Linked DNA regions of Homo sapiens: region 1 is linked to region 2. Evidence: fine-mapped expression QTL. A gene starts in region 2. The other region holds a variant in brackets. All regions are shown on one strand. Distances are from middle to middle.

Region 1 (14,955 bases), 89 kb after region 2:
GTCACCCAGGCTGGAGTGCAGTGGTGCCATCTCAGCTTACTGCAACCTCTGCCTGCCAGGTTCAAGCGATTCTCATGCCTCCACCTCCCAAGTAGCTGGGACTACAGGCATGCACCACAATGCCCAACTAATTTTTGTATTTTTAGTAGAGACGGGGTTTTGCCATGTTGCCCAGGCTGGCCTTGAACTCCTGGCCTCAAACAATCCACTTGCCTCGGCCTCCCAAAGTGTTATGATTACAGGCGTGAGCCACCGTGCCTGGCCTAAACATTTATCTTTTCTTTGTGTTGGGAACTTTGAAATTATACAATGAATTATTGTTAACTGTCATCTCCCTGCTGTGCTATGGAACACTGGGACTTCTTCCCTCTATCTAACTGTATATTTGTACCAGTTAACCAACCGTACTTCATCCCCACTCCTCTCTATCCTTCCCAACCTCTGATCACCTCATTCTACTCTCTACCTCCATGAGATCCACTTTTTTAGCTCCCACATGTGAGTAAGAAAATGCAATATTTGTCTTTCTGTGCCTGGCTTATTTCACTTAACATAATGACTTCCTGTTCCATCCATGTTGCTGCAAATGACAGGATTTCGTTCTTAATTTCAATTAAAATAACCACACATGGCTAATGGCTACCATATTCGACAGCACAGTTCTACCCTTTTAACACATGGATAACTTACTACCTGGGATTACTTTACCATAGGATAAGTAATGGTGGATATTCTGAGGATGAATTACCATACACTTACACGTGCCGTTTAAATGTGAAGCAGCTGCAGTGGACTCTTGACAGACCTCAACTGAGCTCTCTGCTCTCCAGAGCATTGGCCTGGGGGTTCAATACATAAGTCAAGCTAGTTGGGAGACTAGATATTGTATAAAAAGACAAATAATTATGTAAGGAGGTAGATCAAGAGATAATGTGCATCTACTGTTCTCTTTCCAAATGCCTGACCTTCTGAAAACAAAGCCCTCTGCCAACTCCGTAAAGAGAGGTTCTGTGGTTAAAGCAGTTTAGGACGTACTGCCCCTTCTGTCTGCCATTATCTCACTTAGAAATGCTCAATGCACACTCCTTTGTTAAAGGCTCTGAAGAATCATGCAATGAGGTAACACCTGTAAGCTAGTGTCTCCGTCCTTATTGACCACAGAACCCTTTCTGCATGGATCACTCATCCAGGGCTGGAAATAGGGTGAGGCAGGTGAGTGACGCCCTACACTGCACATGAGCAACCCTGAGGGCATTACTTCCTTAAATTGTGCACTCAGGGCCTCACCCGCCTCACTCTAGTCCCAACCCTGCCTGCCAATGAGGAGAAACCCTGTCCCGTAAAAGGGTCGTATATGCAAAACAGCCCCTAAATGCCCAAAGAGCCTAGAATCCAAAGGAGGAAGGAGACAAATGCAGTTTGTCGGCTTTGGGTGATTTATTAGGGGTAACTTACAGTCAGATGCATGGTCACAAGCAGCCGTGAGACAGGTAGATCTCCACACCTCAATCCCCCAGGCCCAGGGCTTCTATCTTGGGGAAAGTATGCGTGCTCTGGAAGGAATGTATAGGTGGCTCTGAACATCACAGCCTGTGATTTCTGCAGCAGCATCAAGGGTTGTTTTGGAGGAAACTTTATGTAGGAATAAGAGTTCCTACATAAAGAGTAATACATCTGCTAGTCATGTGGGAGGCACTCTCAGACTCAGGGTTAGTTAGAAGTTACAAGGCAGATTAGCATGTAAAATAAAGTCACTCATGTCCCGCACAAACACACTTTGAGAAATGCTGATCCGGTCTTTCTCAGTTCATAAAGGACTTTACTAGATAAAGGCCTGTGATGGTTGGAGCCCAGGGATGTTAGCAGGAGTGTTCCAGCAGGGTGTGATCTGGAAAACAGTGTTCACACAGAAGGAGGGGATCAGTCTAGAACAGAAGGAATGTGCTGAAGTGCAGATGGCCTAAGATTTAGCCAGGCTGAAAGGAGAACCGAATGGAAGAAGCCTCTGTTGGCTTCTTCCTAAGCAAGGTTTGGAGGGCTGGGCCCTGGGTGCAAATGCCAGCCCCCTTTTTCTCAGCTTCCCATCTGTCACTGGGTAGGAGGTCAGCAGGGACAATTATACTATGATAAGAACCATCTCCTACAGTTGTATGGAAAACTGAACTTATAAGAAAGGAACTTGGCTAGCCAGGCATGGTGGTACGTGCCTGTAGTCCCAGCTACTTGGGAGGCTGAGGTGGGAGGATTGCTTGATCCCAGGAGGTGGAAGTTGCAATAAGCCATGATTGCACCACTGCACTCCAGCCTGGGCAACATAGCAAGGCTCTGCTTCAAAAAAGAAAAAAAGAAAAGAGAAGAGAAGAAAAAAACAGAACTTGGGTATTTAGCTGAAGAGATTCCCAAGCAAAGTATTGAAGGTACAGCCTGGTTTCTTCATGCTGCTTATAGAAAATGTGCAAGGAAAGAGGTATGTTGAGTAAGTAACTGATAAACAAGAAAGTACCAGGATTTGATGATTCTGGAAATTCTCAGCCTTATCTAGATTGCAAAATATGCTAAAACTAGATTCACTGTCATGAGAATGTGCTGTAAAAAGAAAGCCAAGAGTGAGTCTGGATAACCTTTTGCTAGTGTTTCTGAAAGATCAAAAGGTCTGAATATCATTCACACAGAAAACTCTGACTAATCGTGTGACTAATGCATCGCCTCAACCATCACATCAGAAGTCAGGAATAGAAATAGGATTATCCAGAAAAGATCATGTGGGACTCTCTTCTTTAACAGAGTACATTCTCATGACATACATGAAAAACTCACACAGTTTTTGACAATATTATATCAGCGGAAACATTACCAACTTGGACTGAAAGAAACAGAAAGAAGACAAAATAAAGGCAGATCATTGGCCTCCCAGAATTCTGTGGCGGGAAACAGACTGATAAAATTTACTCAGCTGAGACATGTGCTATCCTTCAAGAAGAAGGAAGGGTGGAAGTGTTCTTCCAAGGGCAGAACTGTGAACCCACAAGGGCAAAGCTATGGGCACAGTAGGGCAGAGTCTGCAGCCCAGAGGATTATTCTCAGGACTTTAAAACTTAATGGAGCTTGGCTGATTGGATTTCAAAATTGCTTGGAACTGGTGATTCCTTTCTTCCTTCCATTTTCTCCCTTTTGGTAATGGAGTGTTTACAACTTTTATCCTATGCCTGTCCCACCATTTTATTTTTGAGAGTAAATAACTCATTTTCTAGTTCCTAGAATCTTGAGATGGGGATATCATCATGGATTAGCCAGGTGGGCCCTAAGTCACAAGTGTTCTTATAAGAAGGAGGGAGGCCGGGTGCAGTGGCTCACGCCTGTAATCCCACAACTTTGGGAGGCTGAGGCGGGCAGATCACGAGATCAGGAGTTCAAGACCAGCCTGGCCAACATGGTGAAACCCCGTTTCTACTAAAGATACAAAAAATTAGCCAGGTGTGGTGGTGCGTGCCTGTAATCCCAGCTACTCGGGAGGCTGAGGCAGGAGAATCGCTTGAACCCGGGAGGTGGAGGTTGCAGTGAGCCAAGATCATGCCACTACACTCCAGACTGGGCAACAGGGTGAGACTCCATCTCAACAACAACAAAAAAAAAAAAAAAGGAAGGAGAGGGAGGGAGATTTGACTACAGAAAAATAGAAGGTGATGTGACCATAGAAGCAGGCAGAGATTTAAAGATTCTGTGCTGTTGGTTTTGAACATGGAGAAACCCCATCTCTACTAAAAATACAAAAACTAGCCAGGCGTGGTGGCAAGTGCCTATAATTCCAGCTACTCGCAAGGCTGAGGCAGGAGAATCACTTGAACCCGGGAGGCAGAGGTTGCAGTGAGCCGAAATCATGCCACTGCACTCCAGACTGGGCAACGAGCAAGACTCTGTCTCAAAAAATAAAAAATAAAACCCCTAATGGAGCTTGGCTGATTGGATTTCAAAATTGCTTGAGGTTGGTGATTCTTTCTTCCTTCCATTTTCTCCTTTTTGGTATTGGAAAGTTTATAACTGTTATCCTATGCCTGCCCCAGGTTAGTTTCAACCCAGTGAATCCCTTTCAGACTTCTGGCCTCCAGAACTGTAAGATATTAAATTTGTATTGTTTTAAGCCACCAGCGTGACAAACAGCAGGCACTAGAATCTGATACACCATCTAATTCAACGACAAAATAATCTACATTCAACTGTCACATAAAAGCCTAACACGTAAACTTAACTTTTCTCATTTGTACATGGCGGGTATGCACTGGAAATAAAAATAATAATAATAATAAATGAAACATTGTCATACAGTGATGTGCCTGGCACTTGAAATGCCATCATGCTATAACTGCGTCATTGCAATTTGTGGTGTGCTGGGCAACAGTTGTAAGCAATGAGATGGCCACAAATGGTCTCTGACACAACTGCTCTTCCCTGTCATTATAGCACAAAAAATGAGTGAGCATGGCTGTGTTCCAATAATACTTTATTTACAGACACTAAAATTTTAATTTTATACTTCAATTTTTACATGTCACAAAATAGTATTCCTGTTTTGACTTGCTTTCAACTACTTAAAAATGTAAAAATGATTCTTAGCTCACAGACCATATGAAAACAGGTGACAGACTAGGCGCAGTGGCTCACACCTGTAATCCCAGTACTTTGGGAGGCCAAAGCAGGTGGATCACCTGAGGTCAGGAGTTCAAGACCAGCCTGGCCAACATGGCGAAACCCCGTCTCTACTAAAAATACAAAAATTAGCCGGGCGTAGTGGTGCCTGCCTGTAATCCACCAGGCATTGTGTGTAAACTCTGGAGGCTGAGACAGGAGAATTGCTTGAAACCCAGAGGCAGAGGTTGCAGTGAGCTGAGATTGCACCACTGCACTCCAGCCTGGACGACAGAGAGAGACTCTGTCTCAAAAAAAAAAGAAAGAAAGAAAAGAAAAGAAAGAAAAAGAAAACAGGTAACAAGCTGAATTTGTCCATGAGCCATTGTCGGTGAACTCCTCATCTATACTTTACACAGAAAATGTTTAGCTGCAAAATTTTGAAGGGCGCTTATAACTTAACAGCACTACACTCAATGTTTTATATCAATTCTCATCTATATCCTCTAAACAATCTTCTGAGATAAATACAATTATTATACTTAAAATACCATATTATACTATAGTATTATTATACTACATTATACAGATGGGGAAACTGGGGCAGAGAAATTTTCAATACCTTGCCCAAAGGTATTGAACTTCTGCAGATATTGAACATCCAATAGAACTTACTGTAATGATGAAAACATTCCATATCTGCATTTCTAACACAGCAGCTACTAATCATATGACTATTAAGCACTTGAAATGTGTAACTAAGAAACTGAATTTCAAATTTGACTTCATCTTAATTTTTATTTTTAATAGCCACATCAGACAGCACAGCTTTCGTGGGGAGAACCAGGGCATGATATGAATACAAGCAGAAAGAGAATAATTGTCAGGCCGGGCACAGTGGTTCACGCCTGTAATCCCAGCACTTTGGGAGGCTGAGGTGGGCGGATCATTTGAGGTCAGAAGTTTGAGAGCAGCCTGGCCAACATGGTGAAACACCATCTCTACTAAAAATACAAAAAATTAGGCAGGCGTGGTGGCGCTCACCTGTAATCCCAGTTACTTGAAAGGCTGAGGCAGGAGAATTGCTTGAATCCGGGGGTGGAGGTTGCAGTGAGCTGAAATTGTGCCACTGCACTCAAGCCTGGGTGTCAGAGTGAGACTCCATCAAAAAAAAAAAAAAGACAGAGAGAGAGAGAATAATTGTCCACGTGTCTCACCAGTGATAAATGGGGGATCAAGGATTTAAACCAGGAATTTCAAACCCCGTATTCCACCTCTTGGCACCAAAATTATCAACCAAGAGCCAGCAGCATCCAGGAGTCTCTGGGCCAGCATTTGTAGAAGTAAATCTGCATAATGGTTCTTAGGTATTTGAAGAAAATAAAAATTACAGTTGTGAACTGTCCAGGAGCCTGTCCTAGGTGATCCAATATCTCCTAGACTTAAAATCTGAAGGTTAATTCTAGGTATTTCTGAGAGACACTCAGGTTGTCCAGCACATCAGCTTCTGCAGAACTGTTTCCCAGGCCCAAAGGAAGCTCCATGTTGGCCTGGTAGCTACAAACACAGACAATTTCTCCAGTTAGAATACATGAGGAAAACCATTTTTTTCTGGCTGAGGAAGGTGTCAGACACAAAAGACCAGTGAAGGCTAAGAGGTTGTAAGTTACTTAGGATAGAAAGCCGGTGAGCCGTGTGCCGACCCAGCTGTCACCCTAGCCAGAATGGCAGCCCCTCAGGGGGAATTTTTTACTTGCAGTTCATTTGGAGCAGAGCTCTGGTTCTTCCAGGAAAGCAGTGGCAGGCAGCAGCCCTGGACCTGGGTAGGGGGGCCATGGACACAGCTGTGAATGCCACAGGCACATGGCAGCATGTTATATTGTGTCCTCTCCTTTTTCCAGTGGGAAAAACAGAATGTACGATGTCCTCCAAGAGACCATTGAAAACGATTTCCCAACCTTCCTGGGCAAGATCTTTGCTTTCCTCGCCAATCCAGGCCTGATCATCCCAGCCATCCTGCTGATGTTGTAAGTTAGCCAGGACCCATGGCTCCACCCCACGGAAACTTCTCCTTGAATTTGAGACTTCCTTGGCAGGTCCTTTTCATCTTGCCTTCTTAGTCTGCACTCCCCAGAAGCAGAATCCATGACAAGGATTCAAGTGTAAGTATTTTATTAGGGAGGGGGTGAGGACTTGAGACAAGGAAGGGAAAGGAAAATGCATGGTTATCACTGTGAGAATTCTGGGAGGCAGTGTGCCTCAGACTCAGCCCTCCCTAAGGGCAAAGGATCC[G/A]AGGCATTTATAGACCAGCTCCCAGCGTCATTCATGGGTAAAATGGCTTCAAGGGGTGTGAGTGAGGGGTCCAAGAGGGAAGGGAAGCTTCTGGTAACAGAGATGAGGGCACCAGCAAGTGCAAGTCTTTTGGAGCACACTGAAAATTTGGGTGAGCCCTGACAGTATCTGCAACAACTCCCACTAAAATGCTCACTAGAAATATCAAAGTCCTGTGGGCTCTGAGCCTATCAGGAAGCTGAACGGTGATTCGGCCTGATCCTGGCTGGGCCCACAGCACTACTCGATGGAGCAGCTTATACACTGGAACAAGCTGGTTCCTTCATCACTGTCCCCCTCAACAACCATTAGAGAACAAGTTCGAAAATCTCTGTATCCCCGGTGCCAGCCTAATGCCTAGAGCATAGCAGGCAAACAGTAAATGCTCAAGGAAAGAACTAGGGAAGAAAGGCAGGAAGCCAGAGTCTTGGATTGGAATTGTTGCCATCAAAAAATGTGCTAGTAAAAATGTTAGCATTTTTTCTTTATTTAAAAAAATCTTATTTTGGCATGCTTTTTTAAAAATTATGAAATATTCCCAGCATACAAATGAGTACAGACAACCATGTACACGATCACAAGATTCAACAGATGTTAACATTTTGCAATATTTACTTCAGGTTTATCTTTCTTCGTAATAGAAATAAAACATTACAGATGCACTTCAAGCCCCACTCAATCCTTCTTTCTTCCTCCCTCCCCAAAGGTAACTATTATACAGACTAGATTTAATTATTTCCATGCATATTTTGTACTTTTTAATCACATGTGTGTATAGTACTGTTTCCGGAGTTTTAAACCTTTTCATGAATGACTCACATTACATGCTTTTCCTCAAACAACATTATGTTGGGGGATTTATCCATGCGGATACATGAGCACATGTTTGAAGGCTCTACTATGTTCCATCTCATGAATAAGCCACAGTTTATCCATTCCTCTGCATAGGGATAGTTAGGCTGTTTCCACTTTTCGGCTATTGCAAACTGCGCTCCAGCCAACATTTTGTATATATCTCCTTGCACAATTCTGAGAGTTGCTCTAAGGTAGACATCTAGAAGCAGAATTGTGGGTCATCAGCATGTGTTTCTTCAATCTTTTTAGATCTTACAGAATTGCTCTCCAAAGTGGTTGTATTCCCTTTGGACTGTTATTTATAAATTCCAACTCTCCGGTGAAATTCTCCAGCTTTCTATTTTCTTGAACATAGTGGTTATAATTACTTTTAAAATCCCAGTCTGATATTCCAATATCTGAACCACCTGGGTGTATTTTTGTTGTCATTTGTTTTCCTCTTGTTTATCCTCAGCCCTACTTTTATCATGGCATGTAATTTTTACTAGATGTCAGACATGTGGATGAAAAATTATAGAGGCTGTGAATAATGTTATCTTTCCCCAAAGGGATGGGTTTTTTTTCCTGAAGGGCAAATGGAATACTAGGAGATCACTTAATCCTGTCAAGACTTGATGTTTTAGCTATCTATTATTACATAAGAAACAACCCCCAAAACTGAAAAATAATATTTTATTAATGAATCTGCAATTTGGGTAGGACTTAGCAGGAATCATTCTTTTCCTCTCTACTCAACATCATCTGGGTCAGCTCAGCTGGAGGCTGGAGGGCCCACTTTCAAGATGGTCACTCACATGACTGGCCAGCTGGCACTGGAGGCCTCACTTCCTTCTCACAAGCTGCTTGGGCTTCCTCATAGTATGGTGGCTGAGTTTCAGGAGCAAGCATCCCAAGAGAATGCAGTGGATATACATGGCATCTTTACTTACTCCTGCCATACTCTATTGAAGCAATCACAAAGGGATACCCAGGTTCAAGAGAAAGAAATATAGACTTATCTTTTGATGAGGCAATGACAAGATTCTAGAAGCACATGTAAGACAGGAGTCATAGTATTGTGGCCATCTTTGGAAAATAGTTTGCTATTGCTAGCTTTGGGCTTTCTCAGGGCTGATTTATTTCAGTTTTGCCCTATTTCCAAGACACTGACCTTACTCCTACAATGTGATCCTTACTATTGAGCACAGTCTTTTAGGGGTCTCAACTGAAAGCCTACAGTGTTTACCAATTCCCTCCTGTGACAGTTACTACGGGACTGAACGAAGTAGGACGAACACAGAAATGAAGACAAAGAAAAAAAGGATTTGTTTTAAAGAACGGGTCAGGGGACTCCTTGCTTCTAGTGAGCAAAGGCAGCCCTGAGCTTCTGCAGCCCTGAGCTTCTACAGCCCTTCGTATTTATTGGGTAGAAAGAGCAGGGAGGAGGAGGTAACGATTGGTCAGCTGTTTGATTGATCACGGGTTCACATCATTGCTAACAGGCCTCAGATGTGCCTAACCACAAGAAACACTGTGCCTGGGGCGTGACTGCCCTCAGCATTCCTTCTGGGTGCCGACATAGTTGTCAGCTTGCCAACATCCTGCATTCATGAGAACAGCTTGCTGTTTACTCATATAGCCTCCAGTCGTATACTGAGTTGATCACGACCCTCATTCTTTTGGCCTCCACCACCCTCCACCTTGGCAGGGCTTAAAACCCATTCTCTCTTTTCCCAATTCTTCCGTCTTTGCTTATTCTTTTTCTCCAGTAGTACTGCTACAGCCACTGTGAAATCTCTGCTCTGCTCTTCAGCCTCTCTGGTGTCATTTTCTTCTGGGCTTCCTGAAGCAATTGAAGAATTGGTCAATCATTTGAGGGCAATTTGTACACAGAGTTTGGCTTATTTATCTGCAATTTGTTCTTCTCTGGGATTCTGCCCCTCAAGTCCCAAAGACTGTGGCAGTAATTAACTCTGACCTGCATCTTCTCCACATTGTAAGATTTCCACTTTCTGCTTGGACTCTGCTTCTGGGTCACAAATTGGAAAATACTCTCAGGGAGAAACCCTGGAGGAATGTGGAGCTCACCTCACATGCTTCCCTTCTCTCAAGCATCAAGTCCCTTTAGTCTGCCTGTCACTCTCCCATGTCTTAAACTACAGTTTTGTAAATTTTGCTCAGCATTTACAGTTGTTTTTCTCTGGAGAGCTGGACCAATACAAGTCCCTTAGTCAAGACCAGAAAAAGAAGTCTTTTCTTTCTTCATTTGATTTTCCACAGAGGCAGGCTCCCTAGCACCAAAACAACAACAAAAATAATCTGTGATCATTTTTATTAGAATTCAGAAAGAAGGCCGAGCATGGTGGCTCACACCTGTAATCCCAATACTTTGGGAGGCCGAGGTGGGCAGATCACCTGAGGTCAGGAGTTTGAGACCAGCCTGGCCGGCATGGTGAAACCCCATGTCTACTAAAAATACAAAAATAAGCCAGCTGTGGTGGTGTGTGCCTGTAATCCCAGCTACTTGAGAGACTGAGGTAGGAGAATTGCTTGAACCCAGGAGGCAGAGGTTGCAGTGAGCCAAGATCATGCCACTGCACTCCAGCCTGGGCAAAAGAGCGAGACTCTGTCTCAAAAAAAAAAAAAAAATCCAGAAAGAATTGGCACACCTATGTTGTTAAGTTTTCCAATCCAAGAATACTGTATTCCTTATCATTTTTTCATTTATGTCTCTCAATATTTTTAAGTTTTCTTCATAAATTTCATGCACATTTCTTATTAAATGTATTCCTCTGCATTTCTCTTTTTGTTATGATAAATTAGGATAGCTCTTTCATCATACTTTCTAACTAGTTTTTGTTTTTCTATGTAAATGTTATTTATTTTCTATATATAAATTTTGTATTCAGTCACTGATATAGTTAGGCTTTGTGCCCCCATCCACATTTCATCTTGAATTGTAATCCCCATAATCCCCACATTTCAAGGGCGGGGCCAAGTGGAGGTAATTGGTTCATGGAGGCAGTTCCCCCCGTGCCGTTCTTGTGATAGTGAGTGAGTTCTCACAAGATCTGATGGTTTTATAAGGGGCTCTTCCCACTTTGCTCGGCACTTCTCCTTCCCGCCACTTTGTGAAGAAGGTGCCTTGCTTCCCCTTCACCTTCCACCTGTAAGTTTCCTGAGGCCTCACCAGCCATGCTGAACAGTGAGTCAATTAAATCTCTTTCCTTTATAAATTACTCAGTCTTGGGTAGTTCTTTATAGCAGTATGAAAACAGGCTAATAAGGCCGGGCACAGTGGCTCATGCCTGTAATCCCAGCACTTTGGGAGGCCGAGGCGGGCAGATCACGAGGTCAGGAGATCGAGACCATCCTGGCTAACACGGTGAAACCCCGTCTCTACTAAAAACACAAAAAATTAGCCGGGCGTGGTGGCGGGCGCCTGTGGTCCCAGCTACTCGGGAGGCTGAGGCAGGAGAATGGCGTGAACCCGGGAGGCGGAGCTTGCAGTGAGCCGAGATCGCGCCACTGTACTCCAGCCTGGGCGACAGAGTGAGACTCCATCTCAAAAAAAAGAAAACAGGCTAATACAGTCACCCTATGAGTGTATTGTTTATCATATTTACTCAACCAAAGTTCTTGAATCTTCCAGGTCATTTTCTCATTTGTAAACAATGAAAATGTTATATTTTATTTAATTCTTAGATCTCTTTTTTTCTCTGTAGGATTAATTAGTACCTTCCATGGGAAAAACAAGTTAATTAATATTTGGTGATGAAATATATTTTTGTATTTTTCCTGCATTTACAGGGTGGGGAGTGCTTTTAATGTTTTCAGTTAAGCACAGTACTGCTTTTTTGGAGAGTTGAGATAAGTATATTCATGAAATAAGGAAGAAAACAACCAGGGAATGTAAGTCATTGTAACATAGGTATAAGAAATCAATAATTAGGAAAGTGGAGTAACTTTTCTAATTATTGATTTCTTACAGAAGTAAAAAAAAAAAAAAAAAAGTGACCTCAAAAGGTGGTGGTGAATTTAGGGCCATTACTAGCCCATATAGTACCTTGTGCAAATTTTTTAAAGGTGCCCACTCCTTCAGACGGAGGTAGGCCCATGCCAAGGGGCACATTTGACAAACAGAATATGGATAGATTTCAGCCAGCAGTCACCCCCTTAGTCAGGTGCCTTTTATGCAGTAAACAGCCTGTATAATGGCTATCTAAGCCAGAATCTTTTTCCTTTGGTGTAGACCAGGGGTCATCAAACTGTAGTCCACAAGCTAAATCCGGACCACACTTGATTTTGTTAAATAAAGTTTTATTGGAACATATTCATGCTCATTCATTTATTTATTATCTATGACTGTTTTTCACAGAAAAAGACAGAATTTACTTGTTGTGATAAGGAATGTATTGTCTAGAAAGACTAAAATATTTATTGCCTGGCCCTCTGCAGAAAAAGTTTGCTGATCCCTAATGCAGACAATAAGGAACCACTTTCAAATATGCTTTGACACTGAACTTAAAACACCTAATCAGTAAGACTTAAAAATAATGACAAATAATAAGTCCAAAAAATATTTAGAAGAAGAAGGAATTAGGATTGTAGAAGACAATAAATCTTGAACTTGAGCCTTGATAAATTCAAGGCTCAGGAAAAGGAGTCGATTGCATTGGATAGAACTTTTAGAGTTGTTCAAGTCTACTATTTTCTTGTTGACCTTCTAATTGTTTCTATTACTGAAAGTAAAGCATTGAATTTCCAGCTATTATTATTGGATTGTCCATTATCTCTCCCTTAAATTCTGTTTTTGCTTCGTATGTTTTAAGGCTGTGTTGTTAGGTGCATATATGTTTTTACTTATTACATTTTCTTGATGAAATGACCCTTTTACAATTACAAAATAATCCTATTTGTCTCTAACAATTTTTGTCTTAATGTGTTTCCCATCCTTTTACTTTCAATCTACTATTACCTTAAAAATCTGAAGTGTGCATTTTTTGGCTGGGTGTGGTGGCTCATGCTGGTAATACCAGCACTTTGGGAGGCTGAGGCAGGAAGATTGCTTGAGCCCAGGAGTTTGATATCAGCCTGGGCAACATGGCAAGACCCATCTCTACAAAAACTTTAAAAATTAACTGAGTGTGGTGGCACATGCCTGTAGTTCCAGCTACTTGGGAGGCGACAAAGGTGGAGGATTGCTTGAACTGAAAAGGTTGAGGCTGCAGTGAACCATGTTTGTACCACTGCATTCCACCCTGGGTGACAGACTGAGACCTTCTCTCTAAATAAATAAATGAAATAAAATATAGTGTGCTTCTTTGGAAAAGCATATAGCTGAAGCATAGTGTTTATCCATTCTGTCAATCTGTGCTTTTTATATGGAGTGTTTGATTCATTTACATTTAATTACCAATAAGTTAACATTTATGTCTGCTGTTTTCTATATGTCTTATGTATTTTTGTTATTTTATTCCTCTATTACTGCTTTCTTTTGGGTTAAATATTTTAGTACATAATTTTAGTTCCCACGTCATTTCTCTAACTATATTTTGTTTTAGTTATTTTCTCAGTGATTGCCCTGGAGATTATAATTAATATAACAAACTACTTTGAATTAATACCAACTTAATTATAATAGTATACAAAAACCTTGTCCCTGTACAACTCCATTCCCTCCACTCTCCTTCAGGTTGTTTCTGCCACACAAATTACATCTTTATACATTTTATGCCAACTGAATAAGACAGGAGAAAAAAGAGCTACAAAGACTACATTGATACTAGCTTTCATGTTAACCCATGTAGTTACCTTTACTAGTGCTCTTTATTTCTTCATGTAGATTCAAGTTACTGTCTAGTGTCCTTTCGTTTTAACCTAAAGAGCTCCCTCTAGCATTTCTTACAGAGTAGGTCTGCTAGTGATTACTTCTCTTGGTTTTTATCTGGGAATGACTTAATTTCTCCTTCATTCTTGAAGAACAGTTTTGCTGGATTTAGAATTTTTGGTTGATAGTCTTTCTCTTTCAATCTTTCAAATATGTCATCCCACTGCCATTTGGCCTCCATGGTTTATATGAAAAAACAATTGACTGTTAATCTTTCTGAGGCTTTCTTGTATATGATTATTTGTTTCTCTCTTTCTGGATTCTCTCTTTGACTATGGCTGTTTTTTTTTTCAATTTGCTATGATATGTCTAGGACTAGATCTCTTTGAGTTTATCCTGCATGGAATTTGTTGAGCTTCCTGTGTAAATTAATATTTTTTCATCATATTTGGGGATGAAATCTGATTAAAAATAGCCATTATTTATTCAAATATTCTTTCTGACCCTTTCTGTCTTTCCTCTCCTCCTCAGATTCCCATTAGGCATGTGTTGATACATTTGCTGTTGTCCCATAGGCTGTGTTATTTTACCTCATTCTTTTTTCTTTCTGTTCCTCAGACTGGATAATCTCAACTGATCTATTTTCAAGTTCATTGATTCTTTTTTTTTTTTTTCGAGATGGTGTCTCACTCTGTCACCCAGGCTAGAGTGCAGTGGCATGATCTCAGCTCACTGCAGCCTCCACCTCCCAGGTTCCAGCGATTCTCCTGCCTCAGCCTGTCGAGTAGCTGGGATTACCGGCATGTGCCACCACACCTAGCTAATTTGTGTATTTTTAGTAGAGATGGGTTTCACTATGTTGGCCAGGCTGGTTCTTTCTTCTGTCATCTCAGATATGTTGAGCACCTCCAGAAAATTTATTATTTCAGTTATTGTAGATTTCAACTCCAGAATTTCTATTTGGTTATTTTATTTATTTCTTTTTGCTAATATTCTTTATTTGGTGAGACATCATTTTGATACTTTCAGTTCTTTAGAAATGGTTTTGTATCGTTCTTTGATCATATTCTTTGATCATATTTAACATAACTGATTTAAAGTCTTTGTCTCTTAAATACAGCATCAAGGTTTCCTCAGGAATGGTTTCTATTGACTACTTTTCCCCCTGTGTATGGGCCAGGCTTTCTTTTTTCTTTGTATGTCTTACTAGATTTTTGGGGTTTTTTGTTTTTGTTTTTGTTTTTTTACAGAGTCTCACTCTGTTGCCCAGGCTGGAATGCAGTGGCGAGATCTTGGCTCACTGCAACCTCCACCTCCTGGGCTCAAGCAATTCTCCT
Region 2 (14,955 bases):
CTGACTCTGCCTCCTGGGGTGGTGGGGGAGAAGCAGACGAATAAAAAAACTATGACCCATAGTCACCAGCTGGCTGCAGTTCTCCTTGTGGGTTGTGTAGACCGTGCCTCTTAGTCTGTCTGGCTTATATCTGGCAGTAATCCTCCCCTGCCTTTGGAGTAATGGGGGGCCCTCAGGTCCCAGATACCTGGATGGGTCCAACTTCCTGCCTAAGAGTCTGAGATGGCAGAGACAACCTCAGCAGTTTCTCGAAAACAGGACCCTTCTGCCCCACCTTCAGTGCTGATCAAGAAAGGTCAAGGAACCAAGACTCTGACCAAACAAACTTAGAAGCACTGTTCATATTACACAACCCAAAGCTTTCAGGGACACACCGCTACCGTCCAGAATCCTATGGCCTCTCTCCCACCCTGTGCCACAAACTACCCCAGCACTGAGCTCATTGGTGTGGGTTCGTCGGTGGAGGGCAGCATCCTTGAGATAGCGCCAGCTCACGTTATCCAGCTAGGGTGTTAGCTGGCGTAACTGGATCCTCTCCATTGTGCCGGTTTACAACATTCTGTGAGCAACACTGGATGTTTTGTAAGCAGATACCCACAGCTAATTATATATATATATGTATATACTTCTAATTGGAGAGATAAATTAACAAGATGGCCCAAGAAGCTTCCCCAAATAAGGGCTTTGGGGACAAAAGCACCCCTGGATTTGAACGCCCTGTGACTTTTGGTGGAGACTGCACATGTTATTTTTGTTGTTGTCGTATTGGGTCCTGGGGTTTCATTTTCTCTGAGCAAGCCACATCCATGAAAGAGAATTAGCACAGAGTTCACCCTCCTCAGCTCCAGCAATAGGGACATTCACTATCCTGATAACATTAGGGCACAACACTCTGATATTATTAATTTTCAGAATAATGTTTGAGTTGCATGTCCAATAAATGTTACTCAAATAGTATTAGCTAAAGTATTGTGTTAAGAAGAATAAAGAAAAAGAAAAGGAATATTTCACAAAAAGTTAAAAACACATTTTTGTGTCACTTTTTTTTTTTCTTAAAAGTTGCAAATGTGTGAAATCAAGAGGTTTCCAGTTACGGACATGTCAAGACCACCATGAAGAAAAGGCAAATCTTGATGAGGCAAAAACCAAGGGCAGAGCAGAGAGGGAGTCTTCCCAGAGGCTGGAGTGCTCTGCTCAGACACCACACCCCACCTGGCAGTTTGCTAGGGTTATCGCTCTGCTAGGAAACATCATTCCAAGTCATATTGTAAAATGCTGGGTGGGCAGTGTGCCCAGGGGTCTGCCACATGTCCTGAAGTCAGCAGTCTTCATAGTTGTGCCTCAGGCAGGGGGGATAGTGGGAGCAAAGACAAAGAGAAGTTCTAGTACCTCGAATGAGAGCAAGTCACATCAGTGGGTAGGAATAGCTGCACTGAAAGAGAGAGGCAGAGGGGGCTGGAGGGTGTTGGAGCTCTCCGGGGCCTTGGATGGCACATTAGAGAGTCTGGGTTTTACCCCTAGGCCATGGAGTCCCAGCGAAGGGTTTTAAGTAGAGGGGAGATGAAGTCAGACCTCTGCTCTGGGGGCTGCCTTAGCTGCCATGCAAGAGAGAAACTGAAGGGCAGGGCCAGCAGCCCGGTGCCCAGGTAGGAGGCAAACACGGGGACCTTTGGAAAGGAGGATATGGTGTGGTCCAGGTTTTTCCCAAGAGGTCAGAAGAGTGTAGGGAATAAAAGCCTGGGCTCTGGAGTAAGAACAGTCAACAGGGCTGAATCCTGTCTCCAGGGACTGCTGGGACACATCACATCTAAGCCTCCATTTTTTCATCTGTAAAGAAAGATAAGACAATCTGCCTCAAATGGCTGTTGTGATGATTCAATAAGTCATTTAAAGGGGTTGGCAAGTTCCTGGCAGAAAGGCAGTGACAGGTAACTCTCAGCTGTGGCTGTCTTGAAGGGTGGGCTTCCTGAGTGTGCAGCCTGCGCGTGGCTGCTCATGGCTCCACACTCAGAAGCGCCCTGCACTTGGTCTAATACTGTGCTGAAAAAGTGAAAGTGAAATTCTTTTTTTTTTTTTGAGACGGAGTTTCGCTCTGTCGCCCAGGCTGGAGTGCAATGGCGTGATCTTGGCTTACTGCAACCTCCATCTCCCGGGTTCAAGGGATTCTCCTGCCTCAGCCTCCCGAGTAGCTAGGATTACAGGCACATCCACCCGGCTAATTTTTGTATTTTTAGTAGAGATGGGGTTTCACCATCTTGGCCAGGCTGGTCTCGAACTCTTGACCTTTAGTGATCCACCTGCCTCGGCCTCCCAAAGTGCTGGGATGAGAGGCGTGAGCCACCGCGTCCAGCCTATAGTGAAATTCTTAAGAATTTTATCTTTTGGGCTGGACATGGTGGTTCACGCCTGTCATCCCAACACTTTGGGAGGCTGAGGCAGGAGTACTGCATAAGCTAAAGAGTTCACGATCAGCCTGGGCAACACGGTGAGACCCATCTCTAAAAAAAAAAAGTTAATTGGGCCAGGTGTGGTGGCTCACGCCTGTAATCACATCACTTTGGGAAGCCGACGTGGGCAGATCATTAGAGGCCAGGAGTTCGAGACTAGCCTGGCCAACATGGTGAAACCCCATCTCTACTAAAAATACAAAAATTAGCCAGGCATGGTGGCACACGCCTGTAATCCCAGCTACCTGGGAGGCTGAGGCAAGAGAATTGCTTGAACCCGGGAGGCAGAAGTTGCAGTGAGCCGAGATCATGCCACTGAATTCCAGCCTGGGTGACAGAGTGAGACTCTATCTCAAAAATAAAAAATAATTTTAAAAAATTAAAAATTAAGGCTGGGCTTAGTGGCTCACACCTGTAATCCTATCACTTTGGGAGGCCAAGGTGGATGGATCACTTGAGGTCAGGAGTTTGAGACCAGCCTGATCAACATGGTGAAACCCCATCTCTATTAAAAATACAAAATTAGCCAGGCATGGTGGCACACTCCTGTAATCCTAGCTACTTAGGAGGCTGAGGCAAGAGAATCACTTGAACCTGGGAGGCAGAGGTTGCAGTGAGCCAGGATCACGCCACTGCACTCCAGTCTGGGTGACAGAGCAAAACTCTGTTTCAAAAACAACAACAAAAAAAAAAAATTAGCTGGGCATAGTGGTGCTTTTTTCCGGCCCCAGCTACTTGGGAGGCTGAAGCAGGAGGATGATTTGAGTCCAGGATGTTGAGGCTGCTGTGAACCATGTTCATGCCATTGCATTATAGCCTGAGCCTGTGAAGAAGAAGAAGGAAGAAGGAAGAAGGAGAAGGAGGAGGAGGAGAGAAGGAGAAGGAGGAGGGGGGGAAGTCTGATGGGACAATGGGGTGCGTACATGAGCAGAGGAGATAGGAACATATGCCGCCCTATTTGCGTATCCCATATATGATGCCCCATGAGCACATAATTCCAGTGGGCCCACGACGCATGGGAGTTTAGCAAGACTCAAAGCCAGTACAAGGCAGGGGTGTAATATCTGTGGTTAAATATGTAGGAATGCTTCCAGCCCAGAGGGGCTACACTTCCCATTTAATCCAGAACTTGCTTCAAACACTAAAAGAAGGCAGTGGTGTTCTAAGAAGCATGACAACTAAGGGACCCTATCCTATTCTTTTTCATTCAAGTTACTTCCCTGGATTAGCCAACCACGTAGGCTGACAATAATGACCCAGAAGAAAAGGAAAAGATAGAGAAACCCATAATTCCTTTTTTTTCCCAGTTCTTTTTCACTCATCAGTAAGCCAAAGGCAGGAAACATTGGTAGAATATGCACATACCAAGACGTGAAGTAAAACCATTGAGTTGGCTTTGTGCAGCATTTCTACAGTCCTGATAAGCCTGAAATCCTGCACATATACAAGCTACAAAATACAAATTGTGTCATTTCAGTGATTCCACATAGGAGTTAAGTACTCTTATACTTGCACTGAAACCTGTTATTGCTCGATATACAGATGAACAGTGGGATCCATGCAAATAATTTAAAATTTTGAGTTTTCTCAGAATGACGTTAAATAGTAGAAAGAGAAAGGCTTTGTATTTTAGTATCTTTAACTGTTCATTTTTCTTGCTTTTTGGACAAGGGACCCCACATTTTCATTTTCCACTGGGCCCTGCAAATTATGTAGGCCGCTCTGCTGCTTTTAATATTAACCCTCGGGCGGGGGGTGAGTGAAGACTGGGGAAAAGGCAGTCGAATCCTAATAGTCATTGGAGGCTAGAAGGACAGACATGTTATAGAATCCTTGCATTTGGTTCAGAGATACACCTTGGATTCTATGTCCAAGCAGATGGGCCAGCCTAGGGGTGCTCAGGCCTGTCCCACTCTCCTCTTGGACCTTGTCTCCCCCTTGGTCTAAGTGAGCATCAGCATCCCTGCTCCCACCTCCCCATGCCCTTCATCCCTACCAGCCTAGCTCCCTCAGTTCCCTCCCCAGCCTATGCAGGAGGACGAGCAGCTGCCTTTCTAGAAAAGGCAACATTAGGCCTGGTTCCCTAACAGCAGAGCCTGAGACGGGGCAGGCGGGGGTGGAGGGTGCTCTCAGGAGAAGAGGCAAGAAGCAGGACAGGGCAGGAGAAGGGGATGAGCAGAGACCCCACTGGAGTCCAGCTTCTGGCTCATCTCACAGGAAGCTCTGGGATGTGAATGACATCAATAAGTTGTTCCCATTTTTGACAGAGGCCGGGCTGTCATACCTCTTTGTTCATCCATCTGTGGCTGTAGGCTAATCCGGGGATGGTGATGGGATTACCTCAGGGTTCAGCAGCCCCTGCTCGGCCAAAGGCAATTCTCCTCCGTTGAAGGGGTCCGCTATGTGCCTTAGCCCTGGAGGATGGGTGCACTTGCTCTGAGAGGGAATCTGGGCAGATCACTGGCAGTGTCCACTACGGAATCTAACCCTGAACAACAAGGAAACCACAGCCCAGAAGTGACCTTCACAAGAAGGCACTTGGGGATTTAATGGTCAGCCCAAGTCAAAGCCACATATCCCAGCTTCCAGACCCAGACTCAATTGATCTCTTGTCACAGACCTGCCCAGGAGACACAAGGGCTCCGCGTTTTTTCATTTTCTTCATCTGACACATGGGAGTGACAACACTGTCTCACCGGGCTGTTGTGAGAAATAGAGAGGTTGGGGCAAGAGTGCCCCAGGCAGGACCTAGCACAGAGCAGTGTGCAACACACATGCCACGAGGATAATAGTTTTAAGACATCACTGTCGTTTTCTTTCTCACACTCTCTGATGTGAGACCTGCTCCCTCTTGCCTGAATGTGTATTCATCTCAGGAAGCATTGGAATTGATCTAGGTGGCGTGCAAAGAAAAAAGCAAAATACTCTGTGTTCAGTATCTGACTTCCAAACTTGGATTTTTGAATTCCTTAGAAATAATTGTGGAAAGCAGGGTTTGTTGTGAGAGAGAAGAAATCTGCCAATTCCTAGATCACTCCTTCAGACACCAAGGGCTAAACCCAGCCACCAGACAGCAAAAACACATCAGCCCCTGAGGACAAGGGTCTCTGTTTCATTTGCTGATGAATCCCCAGAGCCGAGAACTGACTCTGACCCCAGTGGGTGCTCATTTTTATCTGTGAGGAGAAAAGTGGAGTTATCGACTGTGTGGACAGTCAGGTACAAGGGAATTTGATAGTCCTATCTGGAGGGAATTTCTCTCCGGAGATGAAGGTGTTGTAGAAAGCCTTTCTCCTCTGGCAACAGAGAACAACAAGAGCAGGGTAAAGGCAGGAGGCGGAGCTTGCAGTGAGCCGAGATCGCGCCACTGCACTCCAGCCTGGGCGACAGAGCCAGACGCTGTCTCAAAAAAAAAAAAAAAAAAAAAAAAGAGCAGGGTAAAGGGCTGCTGGGGGTCCTCACTCATCAGGGGAGAGCGCTTGGGGCACCCCCAGCAGAAACCTTACTCACCAGTCCTCTGGGCCACGCTGTCCTGTGGCTGCACAGCTGCCCGTGCTGCTTCTCACATGGACCGGGGTCCTGCACTGGCATGGCCCTGGTGGGGAGAGGGATTTGCGGCTGCAGTCCTGCAGTATGGATGCCAGAGAATGCAACTGAGATCCTCCCACTGCCCTCATGCCCCGGGGACTGGGGCGGCCCTGCAGGAACCAGTTGGGTCGGAGATCAAGGTGTGGGACAAAGAGAAAAGCTTCAAAGCTTGAGATGAACCGTTGCACGTGCATTTTAGAGGTAGCTCCTTTGCCCCTTCCCTCGCCAAGCTTGCATGAGGACAGGCACTCCTACTCCTGACCCCTGAGAAAGTACATGGGCATGATCAGAGGCTAGGTCTGTCCTTGACACCCACAGGAGACTTGCCCTGGGGAAGGCTTTTTATTCTGTTGTGTCATAGAATCCTTTGGCATCCTGGTAAGGTCCGTAGACCCCTTTTTATATTTTTTTTTATTTTTGAGACAGAGTCTCACTCTATCACCCAGGGAGTGCAGTGGTGCAATCTCAGCTCACTGCAACCTCCACCTCCTGGGTCAAGCAATTCTGCCTCAGCCTCCTGAGTAGCTGGGACTACAGACACATCCCACCACGCCCGGCTAATTTTTGCATTTTTAGTAGAGATGGGGTTTCACCATGTTGGCCAGACTGGTCCGGAACTCCCAACCCTAGGTGATCCGTCTGCCTTGGCCTCCCAAAATTCTGGGATTACAGGCGTGAACCACCACGCCCAGCCACAGACCGCTTTTCAGAACATAGACATTAAATCCATAAAATAAAACACTAGGATTACAAAGGAGACCAATGATCCTGAAATAGGCATCAAAATCACTTTAAATATCTTTCATATAATGACAATATATGCTTCCTAATTAAATAACAAGATTTCATGGCAGGTCTCTAACTATCATAATTTTGAAGTTGTGATAACATGTAAGATATTTTGAGACATCCCCAGTGGTTTAATTGGGAAAAAAAATAACTGTGACTTTTGCTGAGACAAAAATCACATCTTTGCTTACATTCATGATTGAGGGAAATGCTAAATCGCAGTTAAGGCTAGGAAAAGTGAAAGTGTAGTATTTTCTCCATCACTATTCACAAACCCACAGAATTCCATCCACAGCTCTGGGGGTTCCAGGGACTCCAGATTAAGAACTCCACACTCTGAGACCTTATGACTGCCTTCCAGAGGGTCCCTCTGACACTTTAGTGATGGTTTTCAAAGCAGCCAAATCTGTGCCTCCCTGAAGCCAGGGAGGAAAAGCTGCTGAGGGAGGGGGCGGGGGCTGAGCGGGAACATTCATCTGTGTGGGCTCAGGACGCCTGCAGCAGGATCCACAGTGCAGGCTCCCAGGGCCTGGCACAGACTGACTGATTCCAACGCCCAGTGCCACTCCTGGGAGTATGCATTTTATTTTTAAAAATTTATTATTATTATTTTTCTTTTTGTGGAGATGGGGTCTCACTACGTTGCACAGGCTGGTCTTGAGCTCTTGGGCTCAAGCAATCCTCCTGCCTCTGCCTTCCTAAGTGCTGAGATTACAGGTGTGAACCACCACATGCCAGAATCTGCATTTTAAACAGAAGCCCAAGTAATAACTTAAACAAACATTCTAGAATTTCCCTGGTGCTTTGTCCCAATCAGGGACTCAAGATAGTGGGAGAGGGCCTGGGATGCTCCTCACACCTCCTCTGGCTAGAGTGCCAGCGGCATCATTGCCAGGAGATAAGCCTGCAGCTCCTGGCCCCTCCAGGGCCCCTCATGTATAACTGATGCCTGAAACATGAGGCCATGCTGCCTCTTTGCAGGGAAACCTGAGAAGAGGAGTGTGTGGCCGGATTGATGGGCCGGGAACTCGTCGCCTTCCTTCACCCGTCTCTCTCCCCCAAACTTCACCCACCTCCACATTCAATCTCAAACCAAGAAGCCCCGCCTGCTGTCAGGTCTAGGAAGGGAGGCCAGCCACCATGAGGGCAGGAAAGCAGCCCAGGCTGAAGGCGTGCATACAGGAGCACGCTGCGTGAGCCTGTGCAGGACCCCAGCAGTGCTGCTGACCATGAGCCACCAGGTAAAGGGCCTGAAAGAGGAAGGTGAGTCCACGTCCTGATCCTGCGGGGCCCGCCCACAGGGTTCCTGGGCAGCAGCAGGGGATGGGGGAAGCACATATGGTGTTCAGAGGCATAGGGAGGAGCTGGGTTTGAGTCCAGGGCCTGTCCCCTGTGCGCTGAGCGACCTCGGCTGGTTATTCAACCTCTCTGATCCTCACGCATGAGATGGGGGTAGTCATCACCTCCTTGCAGGGCTACTGGAAGGATTCAAGACAACCTGTGCACAGCACCTGTGTTCAGGCCAGCACTGGAGACTGTCACGGCCGATGCATGCTCCTCAGAGCCTGCTGGGGCGTCTCAGCCACCTATTGTCTCGGTTAGGGTTGCCTGTTCCGAGCAAGCCCCTCAGCAGATTTCTATCTGTCTCTGTCTCTGTGCAGGGCAGGGGGTGGGGGATGTTCTGACCTCATGACTGACAGTATCAGACAAATGTGACAGGCAGGGGACTCTATAATTTGCTGAGTAAAATCATTGGAGCTGGGTCCCAGTTTGAGGCAGCCACAAATCAGCTGAGGGGTCCCACAGTGACCGGGGGTCTGCAGGGAGGGGGACTCACCAGAGGCCAGCCATTTGTCAGCAATCCTGTCTCTTACAGCACGAGGCGGAGTGAAAGGGCGGGTGAAGAGCGGCTCTCCACACACAGGTGAGATGGGGTGGTGGGGTCTCTGGGGAGCCTGCAGTGCCTGGGTGCCCTCTGCTTAGCCCAACAGTCCAGCCACCCATCCAACATTCTCCTTCATCTCCTTCCCTCTCATTCAACACCCTGCATGGAGCCTTCCTGGGAGGCAAGGTGTTTAACATGGGAGGGGGCAGAGTACCACTCAGAGAAGGTGCTGCTCAGCCCTCGGTGTCAGGGGAGACTCCCAGGGTTAGTGACACTCTGAGCTGAGCCTTGGGAAGCAGTGAACATTCACCAGACAGAGGGCAGGGAAGCTCGGTGCAGGCTTCTGGCGGGTGGTGTGGCCAGATTCACATCCAGGCCCCCGGACTCTAGGAGGAACACTCTTAACCTCCAAAAAGTAGTAGGCATAATGGGTGCTCCATCACCTTCCCACTGGGAATGTGACCACAGCTCTCCCGTGAGCCGGTGAGGGAGCCAACTTGCTCCAGGAGAAGTGGGAGAGCCCAAGGAAGCCATAGGCGGGAGAGAAAACCCTTGGTTGAGACTGAGGGTTCAGGGGAGAGGGGCAGAAGCCACACTCACAGGCTGGGCATCTTCATGTCACAAAATATTATGGATGCGATGCTGTTTTCTCCCCCTTCACGTCCCAGGCAGGGCTGGGTCCTGCGCCCCACACTAGTAGGCAAGAAACCAGAATCTTGGGGAGTGATGGGGTTCTGGGGGGTTGGAAGAGATCTCCTTCCTCCCCCATTCTGGGAGGGAGGGCCCTTTCCACTCCCTCCTGTGGGAGGGCCCTGTCCTGGCCCCACTCTGGCCAGTAGGGAGCTGGCCCCAGGAGCCACTTCATCTGCCCTTTCCGCTCCTGTGACCCGCTGCTGTCTGGTTGTCGGGAGCCTGAGCTTCAGTGAGGCCGCTGTGTTACAAGGGGAGAGACCCAGGAGCAGGAGGCAAGGAAGAGCTGGGCAGAGGCTGGCAGGGGGTGCAGCCATGGCATCTCAACAGCCCTTCCTGGCCCCTATCCCGGAACTTGCCTCAGCCACTGTCCCTTCTTCCTACCCCACCTGCCTGCCTCATCCACTCTTTATCTCAATCCAAAGATGAAGGAGCAAATGTGAGAAAGTTCTATGCCCCAGGGTGGCCAGACGAGAAACCTTCCTCCCGGGGGTCGGGCCACGGTGCTCCCGTAGTGACCACTGCCTGTAGGATGCTCAGGCTGGTTCTCCACACCCCACTCCCCTCGTAGTCATCCAGATGCCGTCCCTTCCGCACCCAGCCTGGCCTCCCTCTGCCTCTGCTGCAGGGCTGTGCTGTGCGGGACTCCCCTGTGAGCAGTAGTCCTTAGTAGGACTGAAATGGAAGACCATTTTGCCTACAACACAAACCCTTTCCTACTGAAATATTCCACGTTGCCGCTGCCGTTTTCCCTTTCCCATAGAACACAGGAAATTGGTCAGAATTTTCACTTCACAGATCTAAGTGGTGAAGGGGTGCAGTAAAGTTAAACATTGGGAATATATTGAATTAACTGAAACCCAGCCCCATGAAGGTTTCCATTTTAAATCTCCTCTGGAGTCACCTGCGACGGGACCTGATATTCTCATCCTTCCCTTTATACTCTACCAGGAGGGAATAAAAGTTTAAGAATACAATGTTCTTTTCTCAGAATAGCTACAGTTTGTTACTGTGTTCCTTGAAAAGAAGGATGAGAACTCTCCCTCCTCCTGTATCATTTGGTAAGTGCACTGAACTGTTGAGATCACGGGACTGGAGGGCTGCCGCAGCCTCTCCTCGGCCTGTGTTTTGCACTGTGAATTCTCTGACCGAGTCAGGTGCTACATAGGAGGAGGCCTGTTACATTTAGGAGAGCGTGTGCTGGGCTTGGAGGCCTTCCTAGCAAGACAGCTGCCTTTCCAGTTCCTAAATTATGCATTATGTGGAGTCTGTTGAAAACTGATTATGAAAGAGAAAAAAACAGCTTATTTTCTGTGTTGAAGAGGTCTGGGGAAGATTGAAGGGCAAATTCTGGCTTGTTTTCCACATTCCATGTGAATTTCGTTCAGTTGGAGAACTAAATTACAGCAGGAATTACAGCTCAGAAAAAAAATTGTAACACCAAATTATATCTACAGTGCTGGGAAGTATGCTTGGTACAGTTCATTACCACAATGAAAACCATTGTATTAGCTGACTGAGGACACAGAGAGAGCTCAGAAGAGGATGCAAACAATGACGTTCCTATTCAGTCCTTTCAAGCAACATAGAGCTGATCTTTATGGGACCCCAGGGAACCCTTCTCCATGATCCCTTGCCTTGATCTCTGCTTCTCTGCCCTTTCTGAGCACTGAACTCAGTCCTAGAGCTCTCTTAGGGGTCATGGCTGTGATAATATTTGTTTTGCTCCGTCCCTTTTGCAACAGGGGGCTACTGCCTTCCAGAGCATTGCGCTGGAGCATTTGTAAGACAAATCATACCTCACTGGCTAACACTGACTAGCTTCCTACCCTGGATAAATTATGCAAAAATAGTCTTTCTTTACGTTGTCTTATCAAAGACTATTTTTCCACAGGGAGTGAGAAGAAGAAAGAGGTTGGGGCAGGAGTGGGCTAAGGAAACCTGCTCTATGATAAATACAGGACAGGTTCTCTTAGCTCACTCCCGCAAATAGCACACAAGACTATTCTTTTCTTTTCTTTTCTTTTTTTTTTTTTTTTTTGAGATGGAGTCTTGCTCTGTTGCCCAGGCTAGAGTACAGTGATGTGATCTCAGCTCACTGCAACCTCTGCCTCCCAAGTTCAAGTGATTCTCCTGCCTCAGCCTCCCAGGTAGCTGGGATTACAGGTGCCTGCCACCACGCCCAGCTAATTTTTTGTATTTTTAGTAGAGACCGGGTTTCACCATCTTGGCCAGGCTGGTCTCAAACTCATACCTCGTGATCCACCCGCCTCAGCCTCCCAAAGTGCTGGGATTACAGGTGTGAGCCTCCGTGCCTGGCCGCAAGACTTTTCAATGCACCTATGCCAGTTATCTCATCAGTCCTGGCAGAAACCTCAGCATTTAAAACCGAGTCTCAAAGACATGGACATGGCCGGGCACAGTGGCTCATGACTGTAATCCCAGCACTTTGGGAGGCTGAGGTGGGGAGATCACTTAAGGTCAATAGTTCAAGACTAGCCTGGTCAACATGGTGAAACCCTGTCTCTACTAAAAATACAAAAATTAGCCAGGCTTGGTGGTGCATGCCTGTAGTCCTAGCTACTTGGGAGGCAGAGGTGAGAGAATCGCTTGAACCTGGGAGGCGGAGGTTGCAGTGAGCCTAGATGGTGCCATTGCACTCCAGCCTGGGCGGCAGAGAGGGACTCTCAAAAAAAAAAAAAAAAAGACATGGAGATTATTAATGATGGCTTCAGACCCATGTTTGGTGCCTCTTTTTGCCTTTAAAATAAGTGAAGCAATCACAGCCAGTATGCTCACAAGACCTTCCTTGTAGCAGCTGCAGAGCAGTGTCACCCTCCCCACATCACCTTCTTCCATGTTGCTAGTGTGACCCTTTGATGTAGACCTTGCCCCAGCAAACATGCTCCATTATCACACCCTTACCCTCCAGATTTCAACCCAGCTCCCTGTGGGCGTGTACCCCTCTCCTCCTGCCTCCCACACCAGAACACACCCGGGACGCAGCTCTGCCTTGGACGCCTATGCCCCAGACTCCCTGGCATTTCTGCTGGGGCCCCTCAATCCCCTGTTTCCTCTGCCTGGAATCCTCCTAACTTGCTACCACAATCACCCCCTCCATTTCTCTACCCACTTCTTCTCTTGCAAACTCCTGTTCATCCTTCAAGATTCAGAGTAGCCCCTAAGTATGTATTAAAGACTTCATGGTAATTATTTTTAATTGAGCTGTAAAATATTCCACATAGTAGATAAATCACAGGTTAATTCATTATTCTATTACTGAATATTTAGGTTATTTCCCATTTTTATAATAGAAATAATGTTGCATTGAAGATTCTTGGGCTTGGGTTGACTCCTACAGGTGGAATTAACAGATCAGAAAGTATTTTTAGGCTGGGCATGGTGGCTTACGCCTGTAATCCCAGCATTTTGGGAGGCCGAGGCAGGCGGATTAATTAAGGTCAGGAGTTTGAGACCAGCCTGGCCAACATGGCAAAACCCCTTCTCTGCTAAAAATACAATAATTAGGCAGGTGTGGTGGCACACACCTGTAATCCCAGCTGCTCGGGAGGCTGAGGCACAAGAATCTCTTGAATCTGGGAGGTTGAGGTTGCAGTGAGCCCAGATTGCACCACTGCCCTCCAGACTGGGCGACAGAGCAAGACTCTGTCTCAAAACCAAAAAAAAAAAAAGAAAGAAAGAAAAAAAAGAAAAGAAAAAAGAAAGTATTTTAAAGCTCTTGTTACATGTTGCCAAACTGCATAAAGAGTTGCTTTACAATTTATATTGCGACCAGTAATAAATATGCATTTTAACAAGTCTCATTAGTCCTGGATAAAAAATTTTAAAAACGTAATACTATAAACAAGACAGGAAATCCCATTATTGACTTATTTTAAATTTCCTTTGATAACTAGTAAAACTGCATTTTCCGCCGTTTCCTAATTGCATTTCCCCATTAGTAACTTACCTGTTCATAAGTTTTGCTTAACGGTCTTTGTGTCCTCCCCCATATTGATATGTGAGTTCTTTCCATTAGTCTCATGTTTGATTAAAAAATTTTCTTATTTGAAAAAAACTTCAGAGTAAATGTTGGAGAGGAGAATTTTTTTCCTCTACCTTCCTAGGTTCAGTGACTACAGGCTCTGTAAATCAAACTGACAAAAGACAGATCAACAAGAGGGGAAAAAAGGATTGAATTACATATGTACAAATGAGAGTTCACAAAGAAGATGACTCAAGGAGGTGGTTAGAATTTGGGGCTTATATACTATCTTAGAGGTATATATCATCTTAAAGGGTGATAGAGTGTGGAGAAGAAGCTTGACAAAGGAAAAGCGTTTTGGGGCTTCTGGGTAAGTTATGGAAGGTGACTAGGAAACGTGTGGTAAATAAGTGTTATTCAGTAAGGTTTGTTAAGCAGGTAAGAGTCTTCTCAGGTGCTAAGAGTTGTCTCTGGAGTAGTTATCTTCCAAGTATAGGAGAGGGAGACCCCTTCCAAATGGAAATATATGTCCTGCTTTTAGTCCAAAAGGGCAGAGGAGCGACATATATCTAATTGCCTTCAGCTTGAAATAATCTTTATGCCGAAGTGGCATATTTTGGGATGGCGTCTTCTAGTCTCCTTCATAAACATCAGTTCTTTGTGAAGCATTTCCAACAATCCCAGCCATAATTTATCACTCCCTTTTTCTTTCTATATTTTTACAGTCTTTTCTCTTTAGTCCACAATTTTTTTTTTTTTTTGACAGAGTCTCGCTCTGTCACCCAGGCTGGAGTCAGTGGCACATCTTGGCTCACTGCAACCTCCGCCTCCCGGGTTCAAGCAATTCTCCTGTCTCAGCCTCCCGAGTAGCTGGGACTACAGGCGAGCACTACCACGCTTGGCTAATTTTTATATTTTTAGTATTTTATACTTAGTATATTATATTTAGTAATATACTTAGTATTTAGTATTTTGTGTTTTTCTTTTTAAAACAAAATACAAGGCCAGGCATGGTGGCACACACCTGTAATCCCAGCACTTTGGGAGGCCAAGGTGGGCGAATCACTTGAGGTCAGGAGTTTGAGACCAGCCTGGCCAACATGGTGAAACCCTGTCTCTACTAAAAATACAAAAATTAGTCAGGCAAGGTGGCATACACCTGTAATCCCAGCTACTCAGGAGGCTGAGGCAGGAGAACTGCTTGAACCTGGGAGGTAGAGGCTGCAGTGAGCCAAGATCTTACCACTGCACTCCAGCCTGGGTGACAGAGTGAGACTCTGTCTCAAAAATAAAATAAAATAAAAACAAAACACATTTATCTAAGTTATTGTCCAAAGCTGGCTCCCTAACACCCCACAACCTGTTGATAAGACAAAACCGATCTATTGCTTATAGCAGGCAAAGCTTTGGCAGTATCTTACAGAGGGGAAGGAAGGCCGGAACTTACTGAGAATTGGAAATTTGATTGAAGGCAGGTCTTTCAAAGTGAGAGCTGGAATGAGACTGGGTGAGAATCACAACATAATAGTCCACAATAAACAGCATGGCCAGGATTTTGAGGTGAGGCATTC

Evidence for each region. PIP is the estimated chance that this variant, and not a neighbour inherited with it, causes the effect.
Region 1: its variant is fine-mapped to the expression of TMC2 in lung (TOPMed, PIP above 0.99). The same link has a PIP of 0.9 or more in breast, sun-exposed skin, unexposed skin and visceral fat.

Annotation. Positions count from the first base shown.
Region 1 is chr20:2,617,747-2,632,701 of GRCh38, forward strand. TMC2 (transmembrane channel like 2) reads left to right here. Exons shown (of 20, transcript NM_080751.3): 17 at 6,525-6,650. LOC105372505 (a long non-coding RNA gene) reads right to left here. Exons shown (of 5, transcript XR_007067502.1): 3 at 1,456-1,553; 4 at 760-839. Among named protein-coding and RNA genes, the nearest start is that of NOP56, 27 kb to the right of the region's middle. The variant G/A (reference allele first, on the strand shown) is at 6,916.
Region 2 is chr20:2,528,569-2,543,523 of GRCh38, forward strand. It overlaps TMC2 (transmembrane channel like 2), which reads left to right and starts at 8,005. Exons shown (of 20, transcript NM_080751.3): 1 at 8,005-8,087; 2 at 8,701-8,748. The coding sequence starts at 8,054. LOC105372504 (a long non-coding RNA gene) reads right to left here. Exons shown (of 3, transcript XR_937204.3): 1 at 14,832-14,955; 2 at 13,370-13,556; 3 at 5,960-6,042.